Linked DNA regions of Homo sapiens: region 2 is linked to region 1. The links come from fine-mapping of genetic effects on gene expression. A gene starts in region 1. The other region holds a variant in brackets. All regions are shown on one strand. Distances are from middle to middle. Region 1 holds the start of BRD9 (bromodomain containing 9). Region 2 overlaps BRD9 (bromodomain containing 9).

Evidence for each region. PIP is the estimated chance that this variant, and not a neighbour inherited with it, causes the effect.
Region 2: its variant is fine-mapped to the expression of BRD9 in whole blood (TOPMed, PIP above 0.99).

The regions. Positions count from the first base shown.
Region 1 is chr5:889,205-897,204 of GRCh38, reverse strand. It overlaps BRD9 (bromodomain containing 9), which reads left to right and starts at 4,404. Exons shown (of 16, transcript NM_023924.5): 1 at 4,404-4,599; 2 at 5,351-5,565; 3 at 5,918-6,050; 4 at 7,558-7,618. The coding sequence starts at 4,548. It overlaps TRIP13 (thyroid hormone receptor interactor 13), which reads right to left and starts at 4,321. Exons shown (of 13, transcript NM_004237.4): 1 at 4,115-4,321; 2 at 2,253-2,418; 3 at 411-540. The coding sequence starts at 4,206. RefSeq lists silencers at 4,035-4,654, 4,845-5,063 and an enhancer at 4,403-5,035.
Region 2 is chr5:865,951-873,950 of GRCh38, reverse strand. BRD9 (bromodomain containing 9) reads left to right here. Exons shown (of 16, transcript NM_023924.5): 13 at 2,387-2,425; 14 at 3,376-3,478. Among named protein-coding and RNA genes, the nearest start is that of ZDHHC11, 19 kb to the right of the region's middle. The variant T/C (reference allele first, on the strand shown) is at 3,447.

The DNA of each region.
Region 1 (8,000 bases):
CTGGGCTTGGCCTGCTAGAGCCCATCCAAATCCACCTGTTTCCCCACACACTGACTGAATGAAGCCGTGGGCTTGGCCTGCTAGAGCCCATCAGCAATGCCCACGGAGAAGCATCAAGCAGACAAGGAGCCACTCAGCAGGACAGACCAAGCAGGCATGTGAGAAGAGCACATGGGCACTCTCCGTTAGCCAGGAACTCTAAGGTACCCACCCAAAGGAACAGTATGGTCCCACACTGGAAATCTCTACTTTCCTCTTTTGTGATATACTTTCCATTTCATAAGAGAGAAAACATCCTAAAATCCTACAAAACAAATGGACAAACAGAACCCCCCCTGTGAACTGACATGGCATGGAGTATACAATCCTCTGACCTCAGCCTCCCCTTCAACTCCCATCACACCCCATACCTGCAGGTAGAACCCAGTGATTTGCTGCAATTATGTTTTCTGTCTCTTCCTCCAGATTTTCACTGCTGGGGCCATCTTCATTCAGCTGGAAAATGTGAAGTGCAACAGTGCATGCACTCAAATCGATGGGCTAAAATGAGGGAAAAGCCAATATCGACACACATTTCCAACTCTCACTTAACTGCAACCATACAAATTAGATGTTAAGGTCTACAAATAAAAACTGAATGTACAGTATAATCAAAGCTAGTTCTCAGATTAGATGAGAAGGCTATTATTTTATTTCAGATTGAGGATTGGCTCTTTTGAAAGCTAATACCCATCCCTTGCTCTTTGGGCCCTACATTTACTTACAGAATGAAAAAGTGCCCTAAATCCAGCCTCCGGGACGTTATTATATAAATACACTCACACAGATGGGACCAAAAACTGAGTTTTATCATATAAGGTTTTTTGTTTTTTTTTAATTAACTTATTTTTTGCAACGGGATCTTGCTTTGTCGCCCAGGCTAGAGTGCAGCAGCACGATCACAGCTCACAGCAACATTAAATTCCTGGACTCAAGTGATCCTCCCACCTCCAGCCTTCTGAGTAGCTGACACTACAAGTGTGCGCCACCGCACTGGCTAATTTTTTAAAACTCTTTTTAGAGACGGGGTCTTGCTATGATCCCCGGGCCATTCTCCAATTCCTGGCCTCAAGTGATCCTTCCATCCTTCTCCCACAGTGCTGGGACTACAGGCATGAGCCACCTTGCCCAGTCGGTTTCCTAACTGTGTCTTTTTACATTTGTTATTAACTCAGAGAAATGTTTACATTGGTAGATAGAAATCTATTTCATTCTTCTTAATGGCTATATTGTACATAGTGTAGATATATGGAATTCCTACATTTATTAACTGACCTCTGGTGGACAGTTAAAATATTTCAAATTGTTGGCTATTATTAACAGCATCTAACAAACATCTGTTCAGAAAGATCTACAAAATTGCATGATTATCAGCTACGATAAATTCCTACAAGTGAATCTGCAGTCAGAGAACATTAGAACTTTCCCTGGGCAGCCCGTGCCCTCCAGTTAGGGTGTCCATCCCTCCACAACAGTGTGGGAAGCTCTTCCTTCCCTCAGACTGGCCAAAACCACGGCATTATCAGATCTCAGTGTGCACAAAGCTCTGAGCATGCACAAACATGAGTCCTAACGTATGAATGGGGAGGTCCACCTCACGAGCAGAACTTAGTACCAAGCCTGTCCTTCACAGCTGGTTCTTACAGGACAGGAATTGTACTGCTGTAAGTGATAAGTCTTCCTTAGGAATGTTTCAGGTTGTTTTTATACTGGTGCCAGAATCGCCCCAATGCCTCCACGCCCTCACACAAAGCTCCTCTAACCCATACGCATCAACTCAGATGGTGGGTGAGGTGGCCATGCATGGGATGAGATAAAGGAATTCTATAAGGCAAGCCCATCTTCTCATCTCTGTGGCCCCACACCTCCTATGGTCCTAGCACACACTGAGCACTTTATAAACATTTGCTGATTGAAAGAATGAGACATGGCACACAGGCCTTACCAGCGCAGCCCACTATTGTACAGCACTGCATTCTCATTCCTGGTTTCCAATCTGTTACTGCTATACTGAGAGCACCCCGACATCAGGGCTACTTCCTACTCCCAGCACCTGGCTCCTGACAGCTAGTGAAAAGAACTTGTCTAGCCACCCAAACCAACAGAGAAGTGAACCTGTTTCTGACAACAGGCTATGAAAACGGCAAGACATTCATGATACAACCTTTTGTATTCAGCTAACTGTTCCTTGGCCCAGCAAATTAGTAACTTACCTGTGAGTCTTTAACCTTTAATTCTGTGTCAATAATAGACACAGACTGCACATTTCTGGTCAAAAAAGGTTCATCAAACTCAGTCCATGTGTAATCACCAAACACAATATTATGTCTGTTGAGTAGCTTTCTAACACTCAGGTTTATGTCTTCTTTCTTTGCAGTGCTAAAAAAAGAAGCCAAAACACACATAAATGATCTTAGTTCAAAAACAAAATGTTAAAATGAAGTGTTTTGAAAAACTCAGACAATACATAAGAAAGCCCAGTAGTTAACAGGGTAAGTTGGAGTTGGCCTGCCTGGGACCAAATCTAGAGCCACCCCTTGCCTGTGGGTCCTCTACCAGCTGTGCCCTGAAGAAGCTGTGCCTCAGCTCCCAGTTAGAAAAAGGGGACAACAGTAAGAGTTCTCGCTATGCTGGGCTACTGTGAAGTCATTAATACACTCAAAGTGTTTAGGACGATACCTGGCACATAGTAAGCACGCAATAATGTTGGCTTTCACTATTACTAATGAAGTTCCACAGCTGTGGGGTCAGGCCTGGGGTCTGCATTGTAACAAGTCTCCAATAGCCGTGATTCGTGCTGAGAAAATCTAATGCTTTCAGCTTGGTATCCAGGGCTTCCCTTGGTCCCCCTTGCTGCAGTCCTCCTAACACCTCCCCTTTCTACAACAGTGACCTGGTCCCGGATCACACCTCTGTGCCCTGCTATGCACTGTCCCAGCTTACTGGCCTGATCAACTGCAGTCACCCTCTAAGTCCTATTCAATGTCTGCCTCCCTCTGAGCCCTCCTGGACAGGCTCCTCAGAGCCAGGCAGGTGACATGTGGCCCCTTTGCAATCGTCCCAGCACCCTACAAGCAGCGACCACCATGCATAGTGCGGTTGTGTGCAGGTGTCTATGAACTCTGGTGCAGTTGTACGTAGGTGTCTGTCCTCTAGGTGCAGCTGTGCTCTGGTGTGATTATGCCTAGCGTCTCTGGGCCCAGGTGTGGTTGTACATGGGGTGTCTCTAGGCTGCGGTGGCACTGTGTACAGGTGTCTCTGAGCGCTAAGGTGTTTACACAGGTGTCGCCAGGCTGTGATGGGGCTTTGTGCAGGTGTCTCTGGGCCCTGGTGCAATTATGCTGACGTGTCTGAACTCCAGCACCTAGAAAATACCCAGTCAACAGCTATTCTGTTAAAGGAAAGGTCTCTTCCTCTGCATCCCCTCTGAGGCTGGTGGTCTCACCTGACCTCAATCCACCCTCCGTGGACATAAGGAGGGTCTGTGAAGGTCTGGCCCCGCCGCTGAGTTCCCCCCACTCCAGGGAGCAGCACAGCCCACAGGCCCCACCATACCATGAACTGACTTGGTCACAAATGAGTGGGATGTGCTTTGAACCCTAAAAATTTAACATCGAGTCCGTGAGGAACGGGAACAATTAAAGGGTCTGAGAAGCAGTGGCTCAAAGAATAACCACCCAGCTTTCGGCTGAGACTAGAGCTCTCTGTAATGCGCAGCCATCCTATTCTCCAACGTGGGACTCAGGGCCACATCAATGCACTGGAGGACAGCCGGGGCAGGGGCAGGGTCAGGGCCAGGTCCGTGAGCTGAGGTCGGGTCGGGGCTCAATCTGTGAGCTGGGGTCCTGCGCGCAGGGCTCGGGTCGGCCGGGTCAGTGCCCTGCGGTGGGGTCGCGTCATTGCGCTAGGATCCGGTCGGGGCCCGGCGGCCTGTGCGCCCGGGTCCAGTCGGGCCGGATCAGTACCCTGGGGTTCGGTCGCATCAGAATCAGTGCGCTGGGGTCGGGGCTCGGTGCACGCGCTGGGGTCGGGGCGGGTGGGTGCCCAGAGGATGTGTCGGACAGGTCCGGCTCACCTGCTGCCGCGCTGATGCACCTCCACGTGGACCGTTGGCGACTCGGCCACACAGGGAAGCGCCTGCTTCAGGTCGCCCACGGCCTCGTCCATGGCGCCCCCGAGAGCAGTGGGGACCCAACCAGGGCGCGGCCGCCGCCACCTCACGCCCAGCGTCGCCGCCACAGCCGCTGCCTCAGCCCGCGGGCCCCGCCCTAGCTTCGAATCTGCCGCGCGAGGCGCACCACCTCCTGACCCGGAAGCGCTCGGGCCCGGCAGGGCCACTTCCTGCCGCGGCCCCGCCTCGCCCCGTTTCCGGCGCGGCCCAGCGAGCTCGGCAACCTCGGCGCAGCGAGCGCGGGCGGCCAGCCAGGGCCAGGGGGCGGTGGCGGCCAAGGTCCGACCGGGTGCCAGCTGTTCCCAGCCCCCGCCTCGGGCCCGCCGCCGGCGCCGCCATGGGCAAGAAGCACAAGAAGCACAAGGCCGAGTGGCGCTCGTCCTACGAGGGTGAGGCGGCGGCGCTTTGTGACGCGCGGCGGGCGGGGTCCCGGGCACGGGGGAGGAGTTCCGGGCACGCGGACGGGGGTCCTGGGCACCGGGCGAGGTCCTGGCCACGAGGGAGGGGTTCTGGGCACGCGGGAGGGGGTCCTGGGATTTCGGGCAGGGAACCGGGCACACGTGAGGGGTCCTGGGTAGGCGCTTACGTTCCTGGTAGAGGGTTCTGGGTTCGAGGCTGCAAGCCCACTCACCCCGGTCCTGGAGACTAGGGAAGCATCTGTGCTGGCTTTTGTGTGGAGCTCAGGGAGAAGCTGGGCTGCCCTTTCTCCCGCCTTTCCCTCCCTCTCCCTTGCTCCCGCAGCAGCTCCATGGGTGTCAGCGGGCAGCACGGGCGCCTGCAGGAAGTCAGGCGAGGGTGAACCGAAGTGCTGGGGGTTTCTAGGAGGGAGATCGGGCTCCGGGGTTCCAGGTCCCTCTTAATCCATCTTCTTGAACGAGTAATGTGAACAACATCCCACAGGGCCTCTGGTGAGGACACCGTGGCTCGAAAGGGACCTGAAGCTCCCTGCGGAGGGGAAGGGAGAACAAGGAGGCAGTGACATGCCGCCACTGTGGTCTTCCCTTCCGTCTTTCCCTGCTGGTTGGCAGCCCCGCTGTACTCCTTAGGGAGGCCTTTCCCTCTTAGCACCTTCACGTCTCACCTGGCTGCGTGGCGTTTGCACCTGAGCACGCGGGTAGAACTCGGTCTGTGTCTGTGCAGATTATGCCGACAAGCCCCTGGAGAAGCCTCTAAAGCTAGTCCTGAAGGTCGGAGGAAGTGAAGTGACTGAACTCTCAGGATCCGGCCACGACTCCAGTTACTATGATGACAGGTCAGACCATGAGCGAGAGAGGCACAAAGAAAAGAAAAAGAAGAAGAAGAAGAAGTCCGAGAAGGAGAAGCATCTGGACGATGAGGAAAGAAGGAAGCGAAAGGTAAAGGAGCAGCGGCGGTGGCCCGGACGCTGCCCACGAGGAGCCCGTGGGGAGCCTGGTCCCAGGACCCAGGCAGAGTGCGCCTGCGTGGCTGGAGGAGGGGAGGGGGTGTTCCGTTGGTAGCAAAACGCGAACCGCTGAGGCCCGCAGACTCAGTTCCAGGATCCTGGGTGTGCTGTTCCTCAGCAGACCCTGCCAGGGTCTCTGTGAGGAGGGAGCCTGGCATGAGGAGGATCTCGGAGGGGGTTTCCCTTAGTTCTGTCCCTCCCCTGAGAACTGCGAGGGGATTGGGCAGACCTGTCCGGATCCCGCCTACTCCTGCCTTTCTCACTCCCTTGACTCTGCCGCCCAGGAAGAGAAGAAGCGGAAGCGAGAGAGGGAGCACTGTGACACGGAGGGAGAGGCTGACGACTTTGATCCTGGGAAGAAGGTGGAGGTGGAGCCGCCCCCAGATCGGCCAGTCCGAGCGTGCCGGACACAGCCAGGCAAGGGTGCACTTTTAGAGACTCTCCTGGTGTTCACAGCTCATCGTTGTAAATGAGGGGTCGGCACCGTGTCCTGTTGCTTTGGGGAGAAGCATGGGAGGGAGGAGAGCTGGTATTTCCAGGGCCTCATCCCAGGTGTCCTCTGGCCTGAGGTTTCCTCCGGTGTCTCTGAATGTCTAGAGCAAGGCGTGGCCAGTTACCACTGGTGCCCTTCAGTTTTGTTTTTTAACTTGTTAGCTAAGGATGGCTTATATGTTTTTTAAGCGTTCATAAAAAGAAACAAAAAGGCATCTCCACAGAGACCAATCGTATGTGACCCGCAAAGCCTAGACTGTTTTTTGTCTGGCCTTTATGTAAAAAGTTTGCCAGCCCTGGGTCTTGAAGTTTGGTTTTGTTTGCACTTAAGACAGTATTGGAACAGTAGCCCCATCTGGGTCAGACTGGTAAGAGAGATGCATGTCAGTGAAAACGCAGGTAATTCCCCTTGGGAAGAAGGGACCTCGAGGCCCAAATGGTGGGTCTGAAGTTGCTGAAAGTGACCATAGGCTGAGACAAAGGAAGCTGGAGGCCTTTAGTAGAATCTCTGTCGTGGGCACCATCTGCGAAGGATGGCATTTGGCTGGAATTTCCAGTTGACAAGGACTTGCCCTCTGAGTTCTCTTTGTCCCCAGCCTTCCTGTGCACAACTCACAGTGATGAGGCATTTGTACCTAAGACAAGGGGTGTCTCTTCCCAGCAACTCTCAGCATCCAGTGGTTCCTGGATTATAGGGAAACAGACGGCTGGGCTTTGGGACATGGGACATCAGGGAGTGGGGAGGCTAGTGCTGCGATCATTCAGGCCGTCAGAAACTGTCTGAGGCCTGCTGGCTCCACTGAAGGAAAGTTCTGGAAAGCTGGTGGCCTTCTGAGCTCCTGTGGTCATTTGGCTCTTCAGGCACTTTCTTTTTTTAATTTATTTTTGAAACATGGTCTTGCTGTGTCGCCTAGGCTGGAGTGCAGTGTCGTGATTCACTCCTGGGCTCAGATAACCCTGGGCTCAAGCGATCCTCCCACCTCAGCCTCCCAAGTTGCTGGGACTACAGGCACGCACCACCACGCCGGCCATTTATTTACTTTTTGTTGAATTTTAAGGGACCTCAAGTGAAATAATAATCGGTGAATTCAGGATCAACCTTTATGTCCAGAGCGTTTGTTCCGTCGTCCATTTCTTGTCTAGAGTAGTGGTATGAGCTGAAAACATTGCTAAGTGATCACCACATATTGTTGATGTAAGGGCTACCGGTTATTACAAGAGATTTTTATGACTCCTGCTGTGGGGGTGCCCTTTCTACCCGGCTGAGCTTGGTGGGAGCCAAGGCTGAGTCGGATGTATCTTTATATCCCCAGTTCTCGGTGGAACTTAAAATGCTGTGAGACACCAGACAGACAGATACTGTGAACTTGGAGCTCTCTAATGAAGGGATACCAAAGTCTTGTATTCAATTTTTTTTTCCTTAAATTGTCAGCCGAAAATGAGAGCACACCTATTCAGCAACTCCTGGAACACTTCCTCCGCCAGCTTCAGAGGTAAACCGGGGCGTTTCTGAAGAGCTAGTGTCTGGGGGGGTGTGGTGTCATCTTTTCTGAGGCCTTATTCCCCACGCCAGCCTCGTCAGCTGTGAAACAGACCCTGCACCTTCTCTTGGTGACTCCCAGTCCACTTCGGGGTGCGTAGGAAGAGTTCATGAACTCATTAGTGGCTCACTCTGAAGTCAGAGTAGAGTGAGGGAAGTCAAGGCTAGAGCTGGGACATTGATGGCCGCCAGGATGCGTTGGGGGAATTTTTATTATATCTGAAATACCTATCACAATAAATTAAAAGACGCTCGTAACTTTTTTATTTTTAAGAAACAAAATTCGGTCAGTTGTATCCAATTTTTGGATTGTAAGAGATTTTGTATCATTTAGA
Region 2 (8,000 bases), 23 kb after region 1:
CCTTATTCTAGGGTTCGTGTAGCCTTAATGCTAAGGAGTGGCCCTTCGGGGAGCCCTGTCTTTTCAGCGTGGTCTCTGCTGTGGGTGGAGTTCGGATGAGTCTCTGTCCTTCCCAGGCTCTGAGAACGTTTGGCTCATGGCTCCCAAGGAGGGGTCAGTCCCTTGACCTGACGGTTTCATCTGTGCTTGTTACAGATGAACTGGGGTCCACATGCCTGGTGCAGTAAACCCAGACACCCATGCCGAGGTTTTGTCATAGAAAGGACGTGTGTATTTGCAGGGCGCCAAGCAAGGTGGGCCAGGAGGCTCATGTATAAATCCTGGCCTCCCCCACTGGCTACAGGCAAGGCTTGTAAAGCGGGGGTAGATCTCAGGAAAGCAGAACTGAAAGGCAGAGTCGTGCATAAGGACACAGAGGTTACATGTCGGCTTGGCCTAGAAGGGCGGTATCTGCAAGCAGGGCCTTATAGGTTATAGGTGGATTCAAAGGTTTTCTGATTTGCAGCTGGTTAAGGAGGAGAAGCTTTGTTTAAAAATTTGGGGTGAAGAGAAAAGAATGTTAGCTTAGGCTTGTGGGTGTGGCTTCCTCCAGGCCCGTCAGGAAGAAATTCAGAACAAAGAACGGGGTCAGAGCTCAGTCTTCAGTTTCTCCTTATCTGAGCCCTTCATGCCAGTAGATTAGTTTGTTGGGGAGGTCCTAGGTGGAGGGTCCAGGTTTCTGAAAGACAACTCAGGGATATACATTAAGATGTTATCTTTACTTTCTTTCTTTTTTTTTCTTTTTGAGACATAGAGTCTCACTCTGTCACCCAGGCTGGAGTGCAGTGGCGTGATTGTGGCTCACTGCAACCTCTGCCTCCCTGATTCTAGCGATTCTCCTGCCTCAGCCTCCCGAGTAGCTGGGATTACAGGCATGCGCCACCACACCTGGCTAATTTTTGTATTTTTAGTAGAGGCGGAGTTTCGCCATGTTGGCCAGGCTGGTCTTTAACTCCTGACCTCAAATGATGCATCCATCTCAGCCTCCCAGAGTGGTAGGATGTTGTCTTTTCTTTCTACAGGGAACAGTGCTGGGAGGTTGTCTTTACTTTCTACAGGGAACAAACATCTGTCTCCACCTTCCTTGACTGTTGTTTTAGGATACTGTTACCTTCTTGCTTATCAAGTCGCTGATTTACTTCTCAGAGTTATCTAAGTAACTGGAATTTCCCTTGAAGGAACTCAAGATTTTCCTTGATTTCCATGCTTGGAGGGCTCGCAGGCCCCTGAAGAGAGGGTTGCAGCCAGGCGGGAGTCCCCAAGCAGATTTCTGCAGCTCTGAGGAGCAGCCCCCTCTGCAGAGCCTGCCCCACCAGCTCGTGGTTCTGACTCTGAGCTCTGGTCACCCTCCCGTGTCGTGGCCTGCAGGCTCCTTCCAGGCAGGAAGCTGGCCCCCCCAACACAGCGTTAGAATCAGGCATTGCTGTGGGGTAGGGAAAGTGACCCCCTCACAGCCCGGAAATGGGAAGGCTCTGTGGTTTCCTCTCTGGGTTCCAGTTAGATTCCTTTCGGGAAAGTGAACTTGGATATGGAGTTGAGTGACCCCGAGTGCACCCCCGCAGTAAATGATGCTCAGGACTAAAGTGACTGAAGGCTTTTGGGGAAACAGATGCGAACAAAACAGCAGTATTCATTTTCTAATTAAAAGCTTGTGAAAATCGATGTCATTGAATCTGAGAAACATTATTTCGAACAAAGATCACACATGATAGAGTGCATATACTACAGCATCGCTCCACCGGAGCACAGGACGGGTGTGCCACGGAGGCCGACAGTTGTGGAAGGAGACAATGCACGGCCCGGCCCACCTGCTGCAGGCACCGCCAGGAGGTGTCTGCCTCCTTCGCTCCTGCGCCCACGGCAGGCCCACCTGCCACAGGCACTGCCAGGAGGTGTCTGCCTCCTTTGCTCCTGCACACACCTGCCCCTGCAGGACTCGAGCTGGTCTCAGGCAACTGGTCATATTCCAGGTGGAACCCACGAGACCCTTCTTATCCTAAGCTTCCCATAGGATCTAGGCACATCTTTTTTCTTTTGTTTTAAGCCACCCAAGGCTGCCGAAACAGCATCGGCGTCCTCTCTCTGTCCGCTCCATCTCGCCCTGTGGAGCGCTGTCCCCGGCACACAATCCTGGCGCTGAGGAGGGGGCTGGGCGTGGTTGGGTCAGTGACTGGTGATGAAGAAGGTTTGGAGGACCCCCAGCCTTAATCCATTAAGATGGTGTGACTGGGGAGCAGAATTCGCAGAAGCGCACAAGCCATTTTTACGTGTGTGTAATGTCAGCGAATTGTCCGTTTCTATGAAATCACTCTGGAAAAACTAGTTTCTGTCCTCATTTACTTTTCAGAGAAGAAATGTTCCCATGAAGCCTCCAGATGAAGCCAAGGTAAGTTTTTGAACATGGAAGGGCAAGCCAAATATTATTCTCACAGGGAAAGTTGTATCCAGCCTTTGAGGTGGGGAGGTCTGTGTGTATGACGGCGTTTAGAAATGGAGTCCGTTTCTGATCAGTAAGATCAATAGTGTTTCTCCTCCTCTTTTCATGACTTGAGGTGAGTGGTGTGAAGCCGCAGTACATTCTTCCAAATCCAGAAATGGGTAGTTTCAGAGCAGTTGGCCCCGCTGGGTGCTGTCCTTGTGGGACACCCTTGCAAGGGTTGGGCAGGATGGGCCTTCTCAGGACCTGCTTGGTGAGTAGCAGGTGTTGTCCCAAGCACAGTGGGCTCTGGGGCCAGTGCTGGCAGGGCAGTGCTGTGAGCCCAGACTGCTGCACCTGCCGATTGGCAGGTGTGTGTCTCTGACAGTCAGCAGGCATGGGCTTGGGCTTTGGTCCAGGGTCCCTGGGAACCTGGAGAGACCCCTTAACATCTGTTTGAGGGCAGAGGCCGAGCTGCAGGGAGCTGATGAGAGAGTATGTGTTAGGGTGGCTGTAGTCTAGCCCTGAGGACACGCCTTGCTGGGAAAGGAAAGGGAACGTTGTGTGCTCTGTGAAGTGCCTGAGAAATAGTCCTGGACCCTAAAATTCTGTGTGTCTTCCTGTTGCATAATGTCCCTCCCCAATTTCTTTAGCCCCAAAAAGTTAACAAAGGATTGTTAGTTTGCGTTGTTGGTCTCAGTAGGTTTTTCTTTGACATGGATTTGCATATCCATTCATGAGCTCCAACCTGACAGTCCCTTGAACAGCAGCCTCAGTGAACAGGGCTTGGTCTTGTCACTTACTGAGGGGTGGGTTCACGTTTAGCAAATAATTAGAGTGATTTCAATAGCGAGTGTGAAGTAACATTTCGTTTTTCGTTTGATGTTTGAATTGCTCTTGATGTGTGTCTGTCTCCACAGGTTGGGGACACCCTAGGAGACAGCAGCAGCTCTGTTCTGGAGTTCATGTCGATGAAGTCCTATCCCGACGT[T/C]TCTGTGGATATCTCCATGCTCAGCTCTCTGGGTGAGTTGTAACAGGCACTTTCCCACAGCACCTGGTGAAGGTGTGATAGAGGAAGAAAACACACGGCCTCCACCTCCTCTCCCTTCCTGACTAGACAGGGATGCCAGGAAAATCTTTTGTTACGGTATTTGGTCTTTGTCCCAGGTTTTTGGACCATAGCTCCTAAAATCCTTGGAATCTCCTGAGTGTTGTGTCTTTTTTAAGCTAATGAGAAGTGGTTGCAGCCCCTGGGTAACCTCAGGATGGGGTCTGGCCGATCCCCAGTGGCTGTGGATTTCATCAGTGTTGCCTACCGCCTCCATGAAATCCCAAAAGGTGGGGTTCCCTAGGGAGCCTCATTGCTGGACGCCTGGAGGCTCTGGGAAGAAGGCAGCCCCTTCCCACGGGTCCCCTCTGCATCGCTCCCACCTGGGGCCCATCCGTACCCTGGGTGACACCCCGCAGAATAAATGGGTAAATGTCAGCCTAGTGTGTGGACAGAAGAGTCAAACTCTGCAGGGTATTTAGAGAGGTTTCTTCTGAGTGAAATACGAAGACCGTGGCTGTGACACAGTCCCAGGAGGTCCCAAGAACATTTGCCGAGGAGGACTGGTCTGCAGCTTGTTTTGATATGTTTTAGGGAGACAGAGGACATCAGTCAGTACATGTCAGTTGTAACAGTGGTTCGTGTTGGAAAGGCGGGACAACTTGAAGCGAGGAATGTCGGGTCGTTGGTGGATTCAGAGATTTCCTGATTGGCATTTGGTTGAAAGGGTTAAGCTCTGAAGAGCTGAAGTCAGAAAGAAATGTGCATGGTTAACATAAGCAGTTGTAGAAGCCAAGGTTCTTGTCACATAGATGAATTCAGCCTTCAGGTAGCAGGCTTCAAAAAGAGTAGAGTAGATGGCAAACATCACTCATGAGGCCCTCAAAGGTACCAGATTGTTAGTTAAATCTCTGTTGGGTCAGGAAGAGACTTGGAAGGGGCAGGAGATTCTCTACAGAATGTAGATTTTTCCCACAAGATACAGCTTTGCAGGGCTATTTCAAAATATGTCAAAGGGATATATTTTGAGATAAAATACTCAGTTTCTTTCAGGGCCTGCCATCTATCACGTGATGCTGTACTAAAGTCGGATCGGAATTTGGTGTCTTATTACCACGGAGTCTGCTTTGTCAACCTTCAGATTTCTGTTTTAAAGTTAATGCTGGTCAGCTGTGCCTGAATTCCAAAAGAGGGGATAATGAGGCAAGTCCAGTCCCGCTTCACATCATGGCCTGACCTCATTTTCCAGGTTGACTTTGGAGTGCCCTTGGCCAAGAGTGGGAATCCGTTCAGTCCATGGGGCTTAGAATTTTATTTTTCATTTACAGATGTTTCCCTGACTTCTGTGAGTCACTCTAGGAAATTCATAGAGCTCAAGTCTGGTCTTCTGGGAACCCCATTTGATAGCTGGTTAGTCGGAAGCACAGACCACAGCCTGGGGCTTTCAGTTGGCATCAGCCGGTGGGGCCATCCTGGAGACTGTGCCCTCACCTGGGAGGCTGCCGGTGCAGCGCCCCCGAGCTGTTCTGACCTCCAGCAGCATTTGTGGTGCCTGGATCCATGGGTCCCACTGCTTTGCGTGGTGACGTTCCACCTGTCTCTGCTGGCTCTGTTCAGGCACTTATGGCCGTGATTTATTATAGGGGAAGGGTGCCAACAGCAGCAGAGGGACAAGAGTGACATCCAAGGAAACCCAGCGTGAGGCCCAGATCCACTCCCAGCAGAGGCACATGGGACACGCTTAATTCCCAGGAGTGAGCTGTGACAACACACGTGAAATGCCCACCAGGGAAGCCCGTCAGAGGCTTGGTGCTCGGGGTCACAGGGCACCCCCTTGCCAGGCAGGTACCAAAGTCCAGACCCCGGAGGGAAGGTGAACTTTAGCATAAACCACTCTGCTCCTGTTGTTGGAGCTGTGAACAATCCCTAGCACTGGGGGGGACCCCAGATGCCAGCCGTGGCTGGCCTTGCCTTCCAGGGGACCCTGGCCCCAGGCCGCTGTGACAGCACTTTTCTGCACAGCAGCTGTTTTTCTCAGCACTTCTAAGATTTTGTCCTTATTACTACTTCTCAGCAGCTTGGTGCTGATGGGCTTTGGTGCTGATGTGCTGTGGTGTGTTAGTCTGTCCTCACACTGTTATAAAGAACCACCTGAGACTGGTCATTGGTGAAGGAAAGAGGTTTAATTGACTCACAGTTCCTCAGGCTGTTTGGGAGGCATGGCTGGGAGGCATCAGGAAACTTCCAATCATGGCGGAAGATGAAGGAGAAACATGCATGTCTTCACATGGCGGAGCAGGAGAGAACGCAAAGGGGGAAGTGCTTTGAAACAACCAGATCTCATGAGAAGTCACTCACTATCATGAGAACAGAGAACAGCAAGGGGGAAATCCATCCCCATGATCCAATCACCTTCCACCAGGACCCTCCCCTAACATTGGGAATTACAATTCAACATGAGATTTGGGCAGGAATACAGAGCCAAACTGTATCATTCTGCCCCTGACTCCTCTCGAATCTTTTGTCCTTTTCACATTTCAAAACACAATCATGCCTTCCTAACAGTCCCCTAAAGTCTTAACTCATTCCAGCATTAACTCAGAAGTCCACAGTCCAAAGTCTTATCTGAGACAAGGCAAGTTACTTCTGCCTGTGAGCCTGTAAAATCCAAAACAAGTTAGTTAATTCCAAGATACAAATCGGGTACAGACATTGGGTAAATAGACCTATCCCAAGAGGGAGAAATCAGCCAAAACAAAGGGGCAGCAGGCTACAAATCTGAAACCCAGCAGGGCAGTCATTACATCTTGAGGCCCCGAAAGAATCTTCTTTGATTCCTTGTCTCACATCCAGGCTACACTGATGCAAGGGATGGGCTCCCACGGCCTTGGGCAGCCCCGCCCTTGTGGCTCTGCAGGGTACAGCCTCTGTGGCTGCTTTCCCTGGCTGGTGTTGAGTGCCTGCAGCTTTTCCAGATGGCATGGTGCAAGCTGTCGGATCTACCATTCTGAGGTCTGGAGGACGGTGGCCCTTTTCTCACAGCTCCACTAGGCAGTGCCCCAGTGGGTACTCTGTGTGGGGTGAGGGCTCCAACCTCACATTTCCCCTCTGCACTGCCCTAGCAGAGGTTCTCCATGAAGGGCCTGCCCCTGCAGCAGACTTCTGCCTGGACACCCTGGCTTTTCCATACATCCTCTGAAATCTAGGTGGAGGCTGCCAAACCTCAGCTCTTGCCTTCTGCCTACCCACATACCCAACACCATGTGGAAGCTTCCAGGGCTTGGGGCTTGCACCCTCTGAAGCATCGACCCTTTTAGCCCTGTACCTTGGCCCCTTTTAGCCATGGCTGGGACACAGAGCACCATGGCACATGTCCCAGTGCTTCACAGAGTAGTGGGGCCCTTTTCCCTCCTAGACCCCCAGGCCTGTGATGGCAGTGTCTGGGCAAAGGTCTTTGAAATGTCCCTGAGGTATTAACATTTGGCTCCTCTTTACTTACGCAAATGTCTGCAGCCTTCTTGAATTCCTCCCCAGAAAATGGGTTTTTCTTTTCTACCACATGGCAGGGGTACAAATTTTCCAAACTTTTACTCTCTGCTTCCCTTTTAAATATAAGTTCCAGTTTCAGGTCATTTTTCTGTTTGTGCAAGTGAGCATAGGCTTTTAGAAGCAGCCAAGTCACCTCTTGAATGCTTTAGTGCTTAGAAATTTCTTCCACCAGGTGCCCTAAATCATCTCTCTCAAGTTCAAAGTTCCACAGATTTCTAGAGCAGGGTCACAGTGCTGTCAGTCTCTCCTAAAGAATAGCAAGAGTGACCTTTGCCCCCATTCCCAATGGGGTCCTCGTCTCCATCTGAGACCACCTCAGCCTGGATTTCACTGTCCATATCACTATCAGCATTTGAATCATAGCCATGCAGGAAGTCTCTAGGTAGTTCCAAACTTTCCCTCATCTTCCTGTCTTTAAGTTCTCCCAGCTGTTCTAGCCTCTGCTCATTACCCAGTTCTACAGGGCATGTCTGTAGTCACTGTTACTACACTTTGTCTACTGATTCCCTGATATCAGCTTTGAGTCTCTCCTAGTTTGGGGCTGTGTTTTCCTGCTCCTTCGTGTGTGTTGGAATCATTTACTGGATACCAGGTGGAGTTTGTAGTTGATGCCGTTGGGTGATAGGTCTGCTTACACACCTTTGAGGCCTGGCGGCCTTTGTTCTGAGTTTGAGAAGTGGCTTAGACTCTGTGGGACCTTCCCCAGGCATTGTCAGGGTAAGCCCAGAGTCACCCCGGGGAGGGTGAAGCTGGTCCCCTGGCTGGTGGGGCTCAGGTGACCACAGACCTGTGTGCAGGTTCTTGGCATGTCTGGTGCACAGTTCAGGAGTGGGCTGGGAGCTCATCCTTTCCACCTCTCAGCTGGACGTGCTGGGTCCCCGATGGCTGTGGCCTGGAACCTGCTCCACAGTGAACTGGGCGGGTACCAGGGTCTGCCGGCCTCTTGCA